Regions from separate parts of the Homo sapiens genome. Here region 1 is linked to region 2. The links come from fine-mapping of genetic effects on plasma protein levels. Region 2 holds a variant in brackets. A gene starts in the other region. All regions are shown on their reverse strands.

Region 1 (9,038 bases), not on the chromosome of region 2:
CTTTTTTCTTTTTGAGAGAGGGTCTCACTCTGTAACCCAGGCTGGAGAGCAGTGGCACAATCTCTGCTCACTGCAGCCTCAACCTCCTGAGTAGCTGGGCTCAAGTGATCCTCTGGCCCCAGCCTCCCAATTAGCTGGGACTACAGGTGTGCACCACTACACCCAGCTAAGTTTTGTATTTTTTGTAGAGGGTTTTGCCATGTTGCCCAGGCTGGTCTCAAACTCCTGGCCTCAAGTGATCTGCCCTCCTTGGCCTCCCAAAGTGTGGGGATTGCAGGCATGAGCCACCACACCTGGCTAGATACCCCTTTTAAAAATGAGAATAAAAGTTTTTAAAAGTTGTATTTGTTAAACTAAATGTGTACATTTATTTTATCATTATTCCCAGCAATCTCATATTATTATCTTACTGGTTTATATGTGCGTGTTCACTTTTTTCCATGACTGTTTTAAGCTCATTAAGGTAGAGACTGTAATAATACAGTCTATTGCCTGTGCTACTAGCCCCAACAAAATGTATCATGGCTCCAAGCACATATGAGGGCATGAAAACATCTTGCTGATTTGGATGTTTGAAGAAGTATAGTATTTTACCACATTTGAGGCTGTGTGTAACTCATTGCTAAGACAACAGAGTCTTTTGGTATCTCTTTTTGTGGGCTCTTGGAGTTGACTGTAGTCATCTCGCTGTCAGTGTGTTGAATAATGGCTCCAATGCATTATTGAAACTCTTAAAGCTGGTGACAGCTTAGATCATGAGTGGTATAGAGCCAGTCAGTGAAGGGTTCCACCATAGTCAGCCGTGTGCCCATCATATGTTCATTAGTGTGTCCCTGGTATTAGCACATGATTTACATTATAGGAAGTGCTCAATGAATGCTAGATGAGATAAGAATCTGGATCTGTTGATTTAGTTTGAACTCAGTGATAGCCAGTTACCAGTCTGGCATCCTGATAAGAGTTGTTTTTACCCCAAGGGGGAAAACTGTGACCAAAGGTCAGTGTTGCCTCCTGCTTACATAAAGAACCATTTTGTTCTCCCCTGCAATCTAGCAAATCCTCTTGTTTTGAATTCGGTACTCTTGGTTCCAACTGATTTATTCATTCTTTCTTTCAAGAGAGCTGGTATATTCTTCTATGCATTGAGGTACAGCTCTGAATGGAAAAGAGATCACTGAAGAAAATGAGTGACTCAATCCACTCAATTTAGTACACATTTAAAGGTCTATTGCACATGTTGCTTTGGGAGCATGAGTGATATAAGCAAAGATGAAAACATGGCTCTTGATTTCATGGAGCTACCTTCACTGTGCACATGGAAGGTCACTCCTGGGGAGGCCTTGAAAATTCTCCGTAAGATGGGCTTAGGGGGTTCAGTCTGGCTAGAAGGGGTTGGCCAGGGGACTTGAGTCTGTCTTTGCATAGAATACACTGTTTAATCTAGATTGTATATTTGAGGATGTATATTTGGAGAAGGAGGCTGGTAGAGATTATTGGGAAGCAGGGTAAAGTTACCCAAATATATGAAGATCCCAGGGAACTATCCTAAAACATGTATGTGAGGGCAAGATACACAAGTATTGGCACAAGAGGTTGAGGAAGGGAACAATGCCTGAAAGGGTGATTTGAGGAAATCTTTTTGTAGAAGTTACACTTCTGGTTGTTCCAGAGAGAGCTGCAGAGGATTGCACAGGCATGGAGGGGAGCAGGGTGGATGGAAGGCCTGTGATCACAGAATTTTGATCGGTTTTTCAGGGCCTTCCAATGAACCTAAGAACAACTTTCTCTTCATTTTCTTCATGTGAAGAAAATGGCAAAGAGTTGTTCGAACATGTTACGCTAGAGGAAAATAACTTTGCCCTGCTAGAATGTGTCCTGCCTTATGAAAAGATGATGTGTAATTTTACCCAATCTTAATGAATGTAAAAAAAGATAAGTTACTGTTTTTTGGGGAATGTCTGTGTATCTCTAGGGCACAATGCCTGACACATAGAATGTGTTTAACAAATGTTTGACAACCTGAACTGAACTGAGACAAATTAACTTTTTGCAGGTCATTTAAATTTCATGTCAGAGCATTTAAACGCTTAATTTTTTTCCTTCAAAAATTGGAAACAAAAATATGGCGCTCTCATGAGAAAAGATTGTGCAGAAAGAGCCTTCCTTCACCCTGGGTTTTCTCACTTATCCCAGCAGGCTGGGACTGTCCTCACTGTGTAGAAAGGAAAGTTTTTCACCCATTCTTGGGAAATTAGGCTACTCTACTCTAGTTTTACTTTTGATTACTTGTGTAAAAAAAAAAAAGCAAAAATCAATAGCTAATAGGTTATCTCTTCCTAAGCATATATGCCCAGTCCAGTTGGACACAGATGTGGGGCTCAAGTCCAAATCCCCATGTGCAGCCCAGGATTAGGTGGTACCCTGGAAATCAAGTGGGTGTTCCTGGCTAGGGATTGAAGATGATCTCAGCCCCTGGTCAGCTGGTTGAAAGCATCCAAAGTGCCTCCAGTGAGAAGCTGAGATTACCTCTTTAATGAGAAACACTTTGGGTGTGGTAGGGCCAACCGTCAACTGGTAGGCAGTATTCTTGCCACAGGTAGTATCTGGTCTAGAAACTACTAGATCTCCAAATCCTCTTAAGGTCCCTTACATTGACAAGAATGAATTCAAGTTGCGAAATGACACACCAACTTATACAAGGTAGAGGATGTCATTAAGGCAACAGTCTCACCAAGTCCATGCGCAGAGCTCTGATCCCACCGTCTCCTCCCCTCATTCTCCAAGTCTGCTTAGTTCTGCCCACTACTCTTCCTTCTCAGCAACAGTTCCAGCATCCAGAAGTCTTGAGCAGCCTTCTGCCTCACAAGTTGGGGGTGGCCCAATTAAGAAACTTCATGGCAACTTCAAGGCCAAGGAAACAGGCTGCATTGGCTGGGAAGGCTCGGGTCATCACTGCATCAGACCCTTTAGACAAGGATGTGATTCCTTCATCCCAGATCAGCTCCCTCAGCACATCTCCAAAACTGTTAGGATATTTCCCAGGAGGTGCGTCTGGAAGGGATACTTGAGCACATCTTGCGGGACTGCCATTGCCCAGTTGAAGATCCCTGCAATGCACCCAGCCACCAGGATTCAAGGCACACTGAGCTCACAGACCCTCTTTCCTTCCGGAGTGAAGATATTTTTTAGCCATTCATTTGTCATGAAATACGTTCCGCTAGCTGGAACGTCTCACATAAGGGTAAGCACGGTCCCTTTGTAGATGCCTCGGATCTGAAACTCCTGGTACAACTTCTTTGCACAGTCCAAGGTTCCAGTGTACTTGGTTTCCCCTGAAGAAGGCTGAAAGTGTAACAAGGACTTGATGGGTTCTCCAGGGGTCGCGATGCCTGTGGTGAATGTACCAGATAACATCCCAGCTGCAAACAGCTGGGGATAGCTGAGCACATCTTCTGGGTGTTTCTGTCATAGTTTCTTCCTCAAACCAAACCCAAAGAAGCACACAGCAAAGATGGGGGTGACACCGATGATAGGGGCAGCCATTCCCTTATATAGCCCTGTGATGTCCCTTCTAAGAGTCTTTGGGAGAGAGTCAAAGGTCCCAGAGTACATGGGAGGCTGTCTAGGCAAACTCGGTGGCTGTGTCTGCAGTCGGACCTTGACAGTGTCCAGAGGGTGCCCCATGAACACCAGGCACATGCCACCAAAGCCACTGGCCAGCAGGTTCTTGAGCAGGCTGATGGGCTTTGGCTGGTCGGCTATGGTCAGTCTGCCTATCCCTCAGTCTGTCAGTTCCTGGGCCGTCCTGGCTCTGCTGCCCCAGCTGCAGTGCCAGGGCTGCCAATCTTGCATTTAAAGGCTTCTACTTGCTAATTAATTTTGGTTAAAAAAAACCATTCTTAGAGATAGCCAAGGTAATGGGCATTTAAGTGTTGCATCAATGTGATTTTACATATATGTATATTTGTCCATGGCTCCTGGTTCATAACTCCCACAGCCCTCGTTATATCCTAAGTGATAAAAATAATAAGCATATCTTTTGTTAGGGTATTTAGCTTTTTTGTCTTTGTTTCCTGAAGCAGCTTCAGACAGCTTCAGAGCAATAAAGGTGAAAAAGACAGTCTTTTATTGTAATGTTGGGGCACTTTAGGCCTAAGAAATAGGCCTCAGAAAAAAGAATCTCCCTCTCTGAACTTCTCCTGCCCACCTTTTCTCCCCAAGACCATAGAAACAGAAAATATCCTGTCATCTAACATCACCCCCCACACCTTTTGTCTTGGAGCTGGCCATAAAGAAATTCTTTGATTTACCTTGTCTAATCATAGGCCATAAGACCCTCAATTCAGGAAGGGTCCTCCCCTCTACCCAGGAGGAAGGAAGGCTGCTCAGAGAGGCCAAGAAAAATCTGAACAGGCAGGCCTGGCTGAATTTCCTCATTCAACCTGTTAATATCAGGTTATACCCTTTTTATCCAATCACATTTGTTTACAGTTTTCCATGTTGTAATCATGTCTGCCCAATGAAGACTCCATAAAAGGCCCAAGAGGATGGGATACAAAGAGCCTTTGGACCGCTGAACTTGTGGAAGTTCTAAGAAAGGTAAACAGTAACTCATCCCTGTGCTGGGAGGGTGGTGCACCCCAGCTCCATGGGAAAGAACACTTCTGTGCTTGTGACCCTTTCAAACCTTGCCCTGTGTACCTTTTCATCTGGCTGTTGACTTGTATCCTTAAAAATATCCTTTAGAATATACTGGTAAATATAAATTAGTGTTCCCTAAGTTTTGTGAGCTGTTCTAACAAATTAATCAAGCCTAATCAAACTCAAGCGGTTTGTGGGAACCTGAACTTGAGGCCAGTCAGTCAGAAGTCCCAGAGGCTTGGACCTGTGATTGGTGCTTAAAGTGGGAGCAGTTTTGTGGGACTGAGCCTTCAGCCTGTGGGATCTGACTCTACCTACCTGGAGATAGCGTCAGAATTGAATTGGATTAGAAGATGCTTAGCTGGCGTTGGATGCAGAATTGATTGCTTGCTGGTTGATGGAGATAAATGCCCACATACATGGTCATGGAAATCTTTTGTGTTGCTGGTTGTGGTGTGAGAGCAGAGGAAAACAGTTTGTTTTATCAACACAATGAATAGTGATTATTTATTAAGCACCAGTAGGAGTCTAACCATGGGGTTAAAAAATAATTAGTTCAGGGAGATAACAAAACTACCAGGGTATATCATTTCTGAATTTTTCACTTATGTCATTCATTTCTTTAGTTTTGTTTTCCCATTCATAAAATGGAGGTAAAGATAGTTTAGTACCAAGGCTCCTCTAAGGATGAGTTTTCTCCCATTTAAATCACGATTCATATTGCGTGACTGGAAAGTAGAACATATGGTCCGTGACAAGGGTGTTGGCAATTTGTGGAAGAACAAAAAAGATTTGACAACAATTTCTAACTTGGTTCATCTCTGTAGTAAATTAAAAATTTTGCTCTGATTTGTGGGCAATGGGGGTGGAAGTAGGGTAGAAGGAAAGAAAAATTTGGTCCTTTTCCTGTCATCCCTTTCTTTAGGGTCCCCCTTTTGTTCCCCTTCGGGAAATGGAATAAAAAAAAAAACCCCTGCATTCGTCAGTAACTCCGGGTCAACCACAACTTAAAGACAGTAAGCAGGTCAATCGAAACAGGGGCAATGATTGCTATAAAACTAACAGGTACTCTCATTGATAGAACACAGGCATACACAGGAAGATACATTCACAGAAAGAGCTTCCTGCACAAAGTAAGCCACCAGCGCAACATGACAGTGAAGACCCTGCATGGCCCAGCCATGGTGAGTAGCAGCAATCATTCTGGTTTAAGGACTGTCATGCCTAGGATTTCAGAAAACAGAATCCTAAGGAATTAGGTTTGATTGGGGTCTTTTTGGAATTACTTCTTAAAAAACAGAGATGACTTTAATTTTGACTCCTGTCTGGTGGAGAAAAAGAAAAAAATAACTAGAAAAGTTATAATGGCATAAAAATGCAGCTCCTGGCCAGGCGTGGTGGCTCATGCCTGTAATCCCAGCACTTTAGGAGGCCAAGGCGGGCGGGTCACATGAGTTCAGGAGTTCGAGACCAGCCTGACCAACATAGCGAAACCCGGTCTCTACTAAAAATACAGAAATTAGGTCGAGCCTGGTGGCTCACGCCTGTAATCCCAGCACTTTGAGAGGCTGAGGTGGGTGGATCACTTGAGGTCAGGGGTTTGAGACCAGCCTGACTAACTTGAAACCCTGTCTCTACTAAAAATACAAAAATTAGCTGGGCATGGGTCAGTTGCCTGTAATCCCAGCTACTCGGGAGGCTGAGGCAGGAGAATGGCTTGAACCTGGGAGGCGGAGGTTGCAATGAGCCAAGATCACGCCACTGCACTCCATCCTGGGTGACATAGCGAGACTCTGTCTCAAAGAAAAAAAAATGCAGCTCCTCACCCAATGGCTTTTGCCCAGGTGGTGTTAGTGTGTGCCCAGGTGGTGTTAGTGTGTGCAGTCCTTGGCATCACAGACAACTAGCATGTTCTTTCCTGTGGCCATCCATTATAGAGTCAGGTTGGCCTGAAATTCTTATCTCATGGTGGGAGCTTGGCCAGCACTTTAGGGATTATGTACATATACATTTTAACCAAGGAAACTGGGGCCTCAAGAGGTTTAATGATTCCCCTGAGATTACAGGAGTGCCCTGGATGGAAGAAATGAAATCACCCAGTGTTGACTTTGGACAGCTCCTAGAGAAGGGAAATTTCCCATGTCTCTGATTGCTATTTATTTATTTTGTACCATCTCATTCTTCTTGGAGGAAAGAGAGATGTTAATGCAATGAAAATCTAGCCCCAGCAGGTCTGGAATCTTGCCTGACATTAGTCAGATAAGGCCTGAGAAGAATTTACTATAGAGGTACATGAAAACAGGGGTTAGGAAATCCCGCATCATATTATTGGCTTAGATAATTTCCTTTTTTTCTCCTTTTACAAGCCATACAACTTAAAAGAGCTTGAATATCATAAAAGGTTCATGGCATATAGCAATGGTATGTTTTATTTTATATTTATGTGTTATTTTAAAGATTACATGTAGCTCAGCAAAGTGCCATATTTAGGGGCATAGGCTTTGATGTCAGGCAGACCTGGCTCCACTGCTTGCTAAATGTAGGATTTTTGGGTAAGTTATTTATCTTCTCTGTGCCTCCGTTTCCTCAACTGTATGGTGGGGATAACAATGGCATCTTTCTCATGGCATTTATTGGGAGGATTAATTAATATCTTTGAGAATAAATGAGTCTATACTCTGTACTGGCAGATTTGTGTATGCTTAATTTTCAGTTAATTTGGCCATTCTAATAAACAACGACTGATAATGATAGAGAAAGCATTCAGTAAGTGTTAACTGTTCATATTAATATTGTTATTATTGTCCTGGAAATTCTGATCAATCCACTGAAGTAGATGGGAATACTTTCCACTTTATACAGATGAACAAAAGCTCAATTAAGCTATTTATTTAACATTGCTGGATACTGTAAGCACAAGAACTGGTACACCAATCTAAGCTTTCTGTCTCCACATACAGTATGCTTTTCTTTGGTTCAGAGGCAAGATTTGTGAATTTAAAGCCATTGCATCCAAGCAATTCTGTTGGGTAGCTTTGTGCTCCATAGCTATTTCTAATTCTAGTTTCCTTAAAGAAATCTGTTGGGTTGTCAGCAAGAAACATAACAGTGCAAGGAGCATTGGAATAGGATTAGAAGTTGAGAGGTGCAGGCAGATAGGACATCTTCAATAAGTAGTTGAGGCAAATTCTCATGGACCTAGAGGTTGGCCAGGTGCATGCTTACATGTGTCCACACATTGCTGGTGAGTATAGAGGATGGATGTTCAGGTTGCTCAGGTGAGCTCACATTAGAGTGAGGTGCAAAGCTAGGCTGAGAAGGTTGTTGTCCTGTTACAGCTCACCTTCACCTGGTGCTTTCCCTTGCCCCTGTCCCCTATTATACAGATTGAGAGCGATATCTATTCATCTGCTTTATAGGTGGCATATAAGAGTTCAAGTCATGCTCTGGATTTCTCTGAGAGGTGCTGTTTAAATCATTCTTAAGAACCAGCAACAGCCTGGTTCAGAGCCCCTGCTCTGTATTACATAACCACTAAAATCTACAGTTTCAGATCAAAAGCTTTGTGGAGCAAATTGGAGTATTTGCAGACATCATCTGATTTCCTGATAACGAGCTATGTGACCTACAACACTTATGCACATCTAGTACAGCTGTCACATTACCTAAAACACTTAGCTCTTCTAATGAGACAAAACTAAGATTAATGTTGGTAATAATAAAAATGACCTTCAATGACAATAGCACTGACTACTGACACCTAGGTTTGAGTCCCCAGACTGGTACTCATAGGCTGGTGAACCCAATCAAGTTATTTATTCCCTCTGGGACAGAACTCTTTCACCTGTCTAATTGGGATAATTAATACTAGCTCTGATTACCTCACCAGGTAGTTGTGAAAATCCAGTGTTTAAAGAGATGTAAAAGAATTTTCTAATATACTCTAAGAATATATAAGCAAATGTAATAATGACTTGTTAGAAGCATTGTAATTATTGCTAAGTCATATAACTCCAATGTATGTATTTAAAAGTTTTCATAATGAAAATTAATAGTGATTCAGTGAGTATGACACAGAAGAGGAAAGAGAAAACACAAAGGAGGAATTTACTTAAGAACCCTAAATATGTGATTGGTAGGCTTGGGAAGTTATCTAAGACCCTCTAATATAAGTTGGCATCTTTTAAAAAAAAAGTCATAGCAGGCCAGGCGCGGTAGCTCAGGCCTGTAATCCCAGCATTTTGGGAGGCCGAGGTGGGCAGATCACTTGAGGTCAGGAGTTCAAGACCAGCCTGACCACATGATGAAACCCTATATCTACTAAAAATACAAAAAATTATCAGGTGTGGTGGCGCACGTATGTAATCCCAGCTACTCGGAAGGCTGAGGCAGGAGAA
Region 2 (9,235 bases):
CTTGGTCACATTGATCAGTGTCCTGAGGAAGCCCAGTGGAACCTGGGGAGTGTTTTCCAGTCAGGCTCAGGGCAGAGACCTCCGTGGAAATCTCTGATTAGAATAGGTTTGGGATTCAGACTTGGGCCAAGAGGGAGTCTCACCCATGGGAGGGTCCTTAAATCCTGACAGTTTTTACAGCTGTTCTCCCTCCTCTGGCAAAACTGTGCACATCTGACTCAGAACTGATCCAGCTGGCCCTTACTTGCTAATCAATTTTTCTTCTCTCTACACTTCATTCTCATAGTTCCCTTTTCTTCCCTTCCCAGAAAACAGAGAGTGTGTTTTCTGTGGTCTAAATCTCAGGGCTCAGGCCTGTTACCTGGAACTCAGGTGTGGCCCAGGCTGTGGCTCCTGTGAGACCTGGGGAGGCTGAGGGGACTTTCCCACTCACCATTGCCTGGACCCGCCTGCTGTCTTCTGTGCATGGAGGCATTTGGGAAATGAAGTGGACATTAGTCACTGAGGGGATAATGGTAGCTTTCTCAAATGAGATACTGATGTAGAGCTGATCTTCTGTTTCTCACACTGTCACAGAATTTCCTCCTTCATCTGTGACTTTGGGGAAAGCTAAGGATGGACACTCTATTGTGCTGTGAGCTCTGGGTGACAGCAATTGGAGGGTCTGGCTAGGCAAATCCTACAGGGTTTCAGGTCAATGGAGTTGGAATTTCTGGGAAGACCTACACTGTCATCCTCCATGGAGTCCCATCGTCATCTCTTATGCTCTGATGGAATCAGCCCCACCTAGGTTATCTAGGACAATCTTCCTGACTTAGGAAAAAAATGATGGCAGGCTTTACTAACACTTATATTATAGGATCAGTACAACACCTAGGTTAGTGTGTAACTGAATAAATGACTCTATGAGTCAAGGGGACACATAAAATTGATTGTTGCCATGACATTTATTTATTTATTTATTTATTTATTTATTGGAAACCAGAGTTTTATTGTTACTGAAATGAGTCTCGCCAAGCATTCAAGAATGGGATTTTTTAAGGATAGCTTGGTGGGTTGGGGGCAGCCAGTGAGTCATGAGTACTGATTGATCAGGTCAGAGATAAAATCATAGGGAGCTGAAGGTGTCTTGTGCTGAGTCAGTTCCTAGGAGGGGGCCACAAGATCGGATGAGCCAGTTTATTGATCTGGGTGATGCCAGCTGATCCATCAAGTGCAGAGTCTGTAAAATATCTAAAGCATTGATCTTAGGCTTTATAATAGTCATTTTATCCCCAGGAGCAAACTAGGAAGGGTTAGAATTTGTAGCCACCAGCTGCATGACTCTTAAAACATAATTTCTAATATTTTGGCTAATTCGTTAGTCCCCCAAAGGCAGTCTAGTCCCCAGGACGAAGGAGATTTGTTTTGGGAAAGGGCAGTTATTGTCTCTGTTTTAAACTATAAACTAAACTAAGTTCCTCCCAATGTTAGGTAAGCCTACACCCAGGAATGCACAAGGACAACCTGGAGGTTTGAGGCAAGATGGAGCAGGTTAGGTCACAGCTCTTTCACTGTTTCAGTTGCAGCTTTGCAGTGGTGGCTTCAATTCCTCCCTTTGAGTTTTGACCTTATCGACTTGTTTTGTTTCTCTTTAAGTGATGGTTTTATAACCATCTATGAAACTCTAACAGGTGCTCTTACATGCAGATTTCTGATTAAAAACTCTGAAGATGGTTACAATAGTATAGAGATAAAACTATCAAATAGAAGACTATCTTTTTTGACTTTTCACTTAAAATGTTGCCCAAGAAAACTTTTCTTTTGAGCTATTTATAGCTTTCAACAATTGAGTATAGTCCTGTACATAAAATTTGGAGAATATTTGTTTCTCTCTGTCCACTTTCTCCAGAATTTGGAAACTCTTTGTGAATATCCTTAACTTATGGCAATATGATTTTTCATAAGTGCAGTAAGATTTTTTTTTTTTTGCAACAGGACACAATTGGAGAAACTGGTTATTTTACCAAGGCTTTGACTGTAATGGCGTGCTTCACCTTAAGCAATCGAACTTGACTTATACAGCCAATAAGAGCCCCTTGGGAAAACTGGCCTGTACCTTGTCCACACAGTCTTTGTACAAGGTTCCTGACCAGTGGTAAGTAAAGAATGTCACTTTCTAACAGGCCCAAGAACCCCATGTTTTCCTGGGACCCCAGAGGAAAAATAATTTACCAGACTTACAGGTATTTGATGGTAAAAACTCATGGCTGGGCTTGGCTTTAAAAAAGTCTTATCTGAGATTCCTTATGGAACAGAGTTCCACCAAAGCCAATTTTAAAAGCCTGTGTAAACAATAATTATTTGTATTGTGCTTTATGCAAATAATAAGGCCATGAATAAGACTAAAGTTTATTTTGCAAATAAATCAGTCCTATCTTGATTTGTTTTAAATAAAAATGGGGACAAGAGAGAAAAAAATTATGCTTTAAAAATATAGTACACCTGTTGTTTGCTGTTCTTGTTTTTTTTTCTTCAGCAGTTTGGACGAAATTCTAAATTATTTGTAGGCTACAAAGCCATAAACTAATGCGTTCAAATCTTTACTTTTAAAACTGCGAATTGCACTCCTTACCCTAGTTCTCATTATGTACTTTATAGTATGTTGTTCCCTCAAATGTGGTGCTAGAATTATAGATGACAGCACTGACAGCTTTGCCATGCAAGCCTTGGAACCCCAGGCAGGCCTGCGTGAGTACACTCAGACAGTTGCAATGAGGTTCCAGTCCTCTTATCTTGAGGTCAGCACCTACCCCTACTACGCCCCAGGTCATCAATAAAAAGTTGTAACAGTCTTGGCCCTTCTTACATCTTCATTATCCAACACCATGATTTTTGTTTTTTGCCAAAACAATTGCCAAATATAGTCATAATCATAGGATAAATAATTTTGCTGAAATATATGTGTTATTATTGGTCTTTTGAGATGGAAAGTCCAAGACTGGATTATGCTTTCATGCATTTTTCATAAGAAGTACTTCCACTCTTTTGACAGGAAATGCACAGGGGGTGACATGTGGCTGCAGAAGCTGATGGCATATGGTAGAAATCTGTCCCTGAGTAAAGGAGAGATGGACGGAGGATTGGGTGAAACATTCTTAGGTTTCTGTGCTGTGCAAGGAAGGTGTAAAACATATTTGAGTCTACTACAAGTCAACATTACCCAAGGGGGAACCCCTGTGACTCCAGCAATGACTCTGCCTCAGAATCACTAAAGAGTCCTTCTTTTCATTAGAGTGGACCACAGGATCTGGGCCATAGCATAGACGTCAGAAAGCAGCAGCTTGACACCTGATCCATGTGCATTTTCCTGCCTTTAAAGGGAGGGAGAGAGGTGTATTCTCAGGGTCAACACACTCTTTGTTGATTTTTACACAGAACACTGGCATTTACTTTATTTCATTGAAAGATATATGAACAGATGTGTGTCTGCAAATGATTGTAATTTTCACATTTATTCCAATTGCATAATTTTTAAATTCTGCTTGATGTCCTGGCACACAGTTGTGTTTTCTATAGGTATTTTTCAATAAATCAAGAAAATACATTTTCCACTTTCACTGGCTTTTCTCCATGTGCAGAGGCCTTGAGTAGATCATGTCTGACTATTAGTCTGTTTTCATGCTGCTGATAAAGACATACCAGAGACTTGGAAGTTTACAATAGAAAGAGTTTTATTGGACTTACACTTCCACATGACTGGAAAGGCCTCACAATCATGGTGGAAGGTGAAAGGCACATCTGACATGGTGGCAGACAAGAGAAGAGAGCTTGTGCAGGGATCTCCCTTTTTACAATCATCAGATCTCGTGAAACTCATGCAGTATTACATGAACAGTGCTGGAGAAACCCGCAGCCATAATTCAATGACCTACCACTGGGTCCCTACCATGACACTGGGAATTATGGGAGTTAAATTCAAGATGTGATTTGAGTGGGGACACAGCCAAACCATATTATTTTGCCCCATGGCCCCTCCCAAATCTCATGTCCTCACATTGCAAAACCAGTCATGCCTTTCCTACAGTCCCCCAGAGTCAACTTGTTTCAGCATTAACTCAAAAATCCACAGTCTAACATCTCATCTGAGACAAGGCAAGTCCCTTCCACCTATAAACCTGTAAAGTCAAAAGCAAGTTACTTCCTAGAAACAATGGGGGTACTGGCATTGGATAAACACACCCATCCAAATGACAGAAATTGCCCAAAACAAAGGGGCCCTCTGCAAGTCCAAAATCCAGCAGAGCAGTCAAATATTAAAGCTCCAAAATGATCCCCTATGACTCCATTTCCCAAATCCAGGTCATGCTGATGCAACAGATGGTTTCCCTTGGTCTTGGGCAGCTCCACCCCTGTGGCTTTGCAGGGTACAGCCTCCCTCCTGGCTGCTTTCACAGGCTGGTGTTGAGTGAATGTGCCTTTTCCAGGCACATGGTGCAAGCTGTCAGTGGATCTACCACACTGGGATCTGGAGGATGGCGGCCCTCTTCTCACAGCTGCACTATGCAATACCCCAATAGGGACTCTGTGTTGGAGCTCTGACCCCATATTTCCCTTTCTCACTGGCCTAGCAGTGGTTCTCCATGAGGGTCCCACTGCTGCAGCAAACTTCTGCCTGGACACCCAGGTGTTTTCATACATCTTCTGATACCCAGGCAGAGGTTCTCAAGGACCAGTTCTTGACTTCTGTGTACTCACTGGCTCTACACCATGTGGAAGCTGCCAAGGCTTGGGGTTTGCACCATCTGAAGCCATGGCCTGAGCCCTACATTGGCGTCTTTCAGCCATAGCTGGAGTGGCTGGACACAGGGCACCAACTCCTTAGGCTGCACACAGCACGGGCACCCTGGGCCTGGACCACAAAACCACTTTTGCCTCTTAGGCCTCCAGGCCTGTGATGGGAGGGGCTGCCGTGAAGACTTCTGACATTCACAGGAGACATTTTCCCCATTGTCTTGAGGATTAACATTTGGCTCCTCATTACTTATGCAAATTTCTGCAGCTGGCTTGAATTTCACCTCAGAAAATAAGATTT[TC/C]TTTTCTACTGCCTTGCCAGGTTGTAAATTTTCTGAACTTTTATGCTGTTTCCCCTTTAAAACTGAATGCCTTTAATAGCACTCAAGTGGCTTTTTGAATTCTTTGCTGCTTAGAAATTTCTTCTGCCAGACACCCTAAATCATCTCTCTCAAGTTCAAAATTCCACAATTTGCTCCAGTTCCCAATGAGTTCCTCATCTCCATCTGAGACCACCTCAAGCTAGACCTTATTGTTCATATAACTATCAGCATTTTTGTCAAAGCAATTCAACAAGTCTCTAGGAAGTTACAAACTATCCCATATTTTCCGGTCTTTTTCTGAGCCCTGCAAACTCTTCCAATCTCTGCCCGTTACCCAGTTAAAAAGTCACTTCCATATTTTTGGTTATCTTTTCAGCAATGTCTCACTCTACTGGTACCAATTTACTGTATTAGTCTGTTATCACGCTGGTCCCAAGACTGGACAATTCATAAAAGAAAGGTTTATTGGACTTACAGTTCCACATGGCTTGGGAGGCCTCACAATTATGGTGGAAGGTGGAAATCACGTCTCACATGGTGGCAGACTAGAGAAGAGTGCACATGAAGGAAAACTCCCCTTTTTAATCCATCAGATCTCATGAAACTCATTCACTATCACACGAATAGCTCAGGAGAGACCCATGCCCATAATTCAGTCACCTCCCATCAGGTTCCTTCCATGACATGTGGGAATTGTGGAAGTTACAATTCAAGATGAAATTTGGGTGGGGACACAAACAAACCATATCACTGACCTTCTCCGCATCATCTCTCATGACCCCAGAGAAAGAGCAGAGATTTGTCTGGGGTAGGAGCTGCTCCTGTGGAACTTAGAGGCTGCAGACGACCCCAGTGCAGTTTTATGGAGTAAGAGAGTTTTCCCATGTCTGGGAACTTCTAGCATACCCACTGCCAGAGATTGCTGGTTGGCTGTTATTGAGGGGTTCAGAATTAGATCACCTGGTAGCCTATCTCACTGCAGCCCCATTGTGTAACTTACCACCAATGGCCTTCACGTGAGGACTCAATGTTAACTGTTCTGACCTCATTTTCTTACCTCCTTTATTTGTAAGTTTGGTTACAGATTTTTTTTTTACTTTAATTTCAGGGATATGTGTGCTGAATGCGCAGGTTTTAGTTTCTTATTCAAGCCTTATAATTGCTCAACTGATCAGGAATAATACAACATGTATGCAGTTTTGGGGAAATATAAATGAACATCCATGCAAAATTTTTTGTTTGGATATGTCCGTCAGTTACACCCCTATGAACATAATAGCCGGTCCTCACCAGAAATTGCTGGTCCTCACCGATCTCAAAAGCATCTAGATCTTCAACTTCCTAGCCTTGAGAATTCAGAAAACAATGTTTATGATATTTCTGAGCCACCCATTTAATGGAGTTCTGTTATAGCAGCTGAAACAGACTAAACCATTTACCAAGTCTCAGTAAGGGCAGTGAGGGTCCACCATGCTTGAGAGACAAGCATTACTCTCTCATTTGCAGCTCAGGATGACAGAAGCATGATCACGAGCTGATCTGAAAAGAAGATGTGGCTTTCTCTCCCTCAGATCTCAGTTGAAGCCATGGTGTCACATCTCTATGGTGGAGACTAAATTCCAGTCTGTGATGTAATGGATGCCTGCCTCCTCCCACCCTCACTTACGAGACAGAGTTTCCATGCCATGCGTTATTGACCAAGAACCAAGAAGGACTCCAATTATTCTCACCCCTGCTCACTTGTATGGCAGAGGTTCTGGGGATATTCCTGGGAGAGGCATAATGAGACTATTTAAGTCCACGATTCCCAAACAGTTTTATGCTCTTAAAGCAGGAGTATCACTTTGAGATATATGAATAATTTCATGTGCACTAAGGTGGAGGCTGTTATATTTTTATAGGTAAAGATGCATGGCATAAAGACAGAGATACAGCACTCTGGAAATTGTGTGACTATATTTGCAGTTGACTGTGAATAATTTTTACCATGAAGTTATCCTAAAACACATAATATATTTTTACTGTAAGTAATTAATGAAAAGCTGACAGCTCCACAAGAGCAATATCCACTTGGTTTAGCAGAGAGAATGAGAAATAGCATAATTTAAGAATAATCAGTTAGACACTGTGCCATGTGCCTGTATTTTCAACTAGTGAGGATGCTAATGTGGGAAGATCACCCAAGCCCAGGATTTCAAGGCCAGCCTGCAAGATATTGCTAGACCCATTTTCTTAAAAAAAAAAAAATAACATTCTGGGTCATGACAAACCTCAAAAACTGACCCTCTAAATAGGAACAAATTTAATTGCATTAAAATGTGGATGAATTTTTGACACAAAACAGTGACAGCATGCCAGCAATGAGTACAGAATAACATCCAGTTGTTATGTTAAGAGATACAGACTCCGAAAAAGAGACATCAGGTAGAGGCTGTCAAAGGCCTCACTGCCTAATGACTGCTTTTCCATTGATACTGTGTGTATATCCCGGAATGCACCTGTGAATGAGGACATCATGTCTTTCATAGTGTGAGAGAAAGAGACATTACTACCCATCTGACAAAGGATTGATCAGAATATACCAGGATCTCAGACAACTCTATAGGAAAAATATCTAGTAATCCGAATAAAAAGCAGGCGATATTTATTTCTTAAAATAAGACTTTCAAATTGCAAACAGGCATATAAAATGTGCTGTGTAACACTGATCATCAGAACAATGCAAAACAAAACTACAGTGAAATATCATCTCATCTGATTTTAAAATGATTTCATCCAAAAGCCAGACAGAAACAAATGCTGGGAAGGATATGGAGAAATGAGAACACTCATAACCTGTTGGTGGGCACTTAAGTTAATAAAACCACTATGGAGAACAGTTTAGAGTTTCCTCAAAACCTAATAGTAGTGTTGTCATATAATCCAGCAATCCTGCTGCTGGCATGTACTCCCTCCCACAAAAAAAAAATGTTGTTTGCACTACCATGTTTGTTATAGCACTGTTCGTAATAGCCAAAATTTGAAAGCATCCTAACTGCCCATTAACAGATGATGGATAAATAAAATGTGGTACATATAGCATATGGATTAATATTATGCCATAAAGAGAATGAGATTTTTTCATTTGCAACAACGTGGATGAAACTGGAGTTCATTATATTAATTGAAATAATCCCAGAACCGAAAGACAAACTTCACATATTCTCATATATTTGTGGAAGTTAAAAATTAAGACAACTGAACTCGTGGAGATAGAGAGTGAAAGGATGGTCACCAGAGGCTGGGAAGGTCTATGGTAGATGGGGATTATTGGGGATGCTCAATGGATGAAAAAAGTGGTTAGAAATAACAAATAATACATAGTATTTGATAACACAACAGACTAAGTATAATCCTTAATAACATAATTATAGATTGTAAAATAACTAAAAGTGTATAAATGGAATGTTGGTAACTCAAAGAATTAATACTTGAAAGGATGTAGGAACCATTCATCATAATGTGAGTATTATGCAGTTCATGCTATATCAAAGTCAGGTACCCCATAAATATACACATATACCATTTACCCACAAAAATTCAAAATTAAAGTATTTATGTATCTCATCTTCTGTATCTATATTACATTAAACCTAAGAAGATACTGGTTTCTTCACACTACCAAGATCCACATAGACATCCGTAGCCTTCTTTCTTTGCCTGTCCATAATCTGACATTGAAAAATGAGGAAACCTTTCCTATCATATGACATTAATTTACTTAGTGCACAATTTCAAAATACACAAATTGTGTTAGAATTATTAAACTGACCCTTGTTGAAAATATGTTTATCGACTAGAATACCGTGCTTATATGCAGCTTATTTATATTTTACAATCACAACATCAAATTATTTCCAAAGATACTTGTTTCTGATATTCATGCCCCCCTTTCTGCAGTGAAATTAGTACAAACCTGTTTATCATTGTTAGATATTTTTATACAGCTTTCATTTTATTCTGTGTTTCATGACCAGCTAAATACTTTTGAAGTTGTATGCATTTAGGTTAACACTTTGTCTCAAAAAATTATGAGTTTTCACAAATTATTTATGCCATGTGTTTATCATTGAACACCATGAAAATAGTTTCATTGTGAT

Alleles and levels. Alleles are on the strand shown, and positions count from the first base shown. The strength of an association depends on the size of the effect and on how common the allele is.
For the plasma level of the protein whose gene starts at base 5,722 in region 1, allele C in region 2 goes with a higher level than allele TC (strong association).

The links. PIP is the posterior inclusion probability: the model's chance that the variant is causal. The UK Biobank Pharma Proteomics Project read protein levels with antibody pairs (Olink). The fine-mapping took linkage between variants from a reference panel, not from the people measured, so its PIPs are less certain.
Region 1: IL17F starts here. The variant in region 2 is fine-mapped to the plasma level of the IL17F protein (UK Biobank, PIP above 0.99).

The regions. Positions count from the first base shown.
Region 1 is chr6:52,241,184-52,250,221 of GRCh38, reverse strand. It overlaps IL17F (interleukin 17F), which reads left to right and starts at 5,722. Exons shown (of 3, transcript NM_052872.4): 1 at 5,722-5,825. The coding sequence starts at 5,793. It also overlaps the pseudogene SLC25A20P1.
Region 2 is chr14:106,045,959-106,055,193 of GRCh38, reverse strand. It overlaps IGH. Among named protein-coding and RNA genes, the nearest start is that of FAM30A, 130 kb to the right of the region's middle. The variant TC/C (reference allele first, on the strand shown) is at 5,075.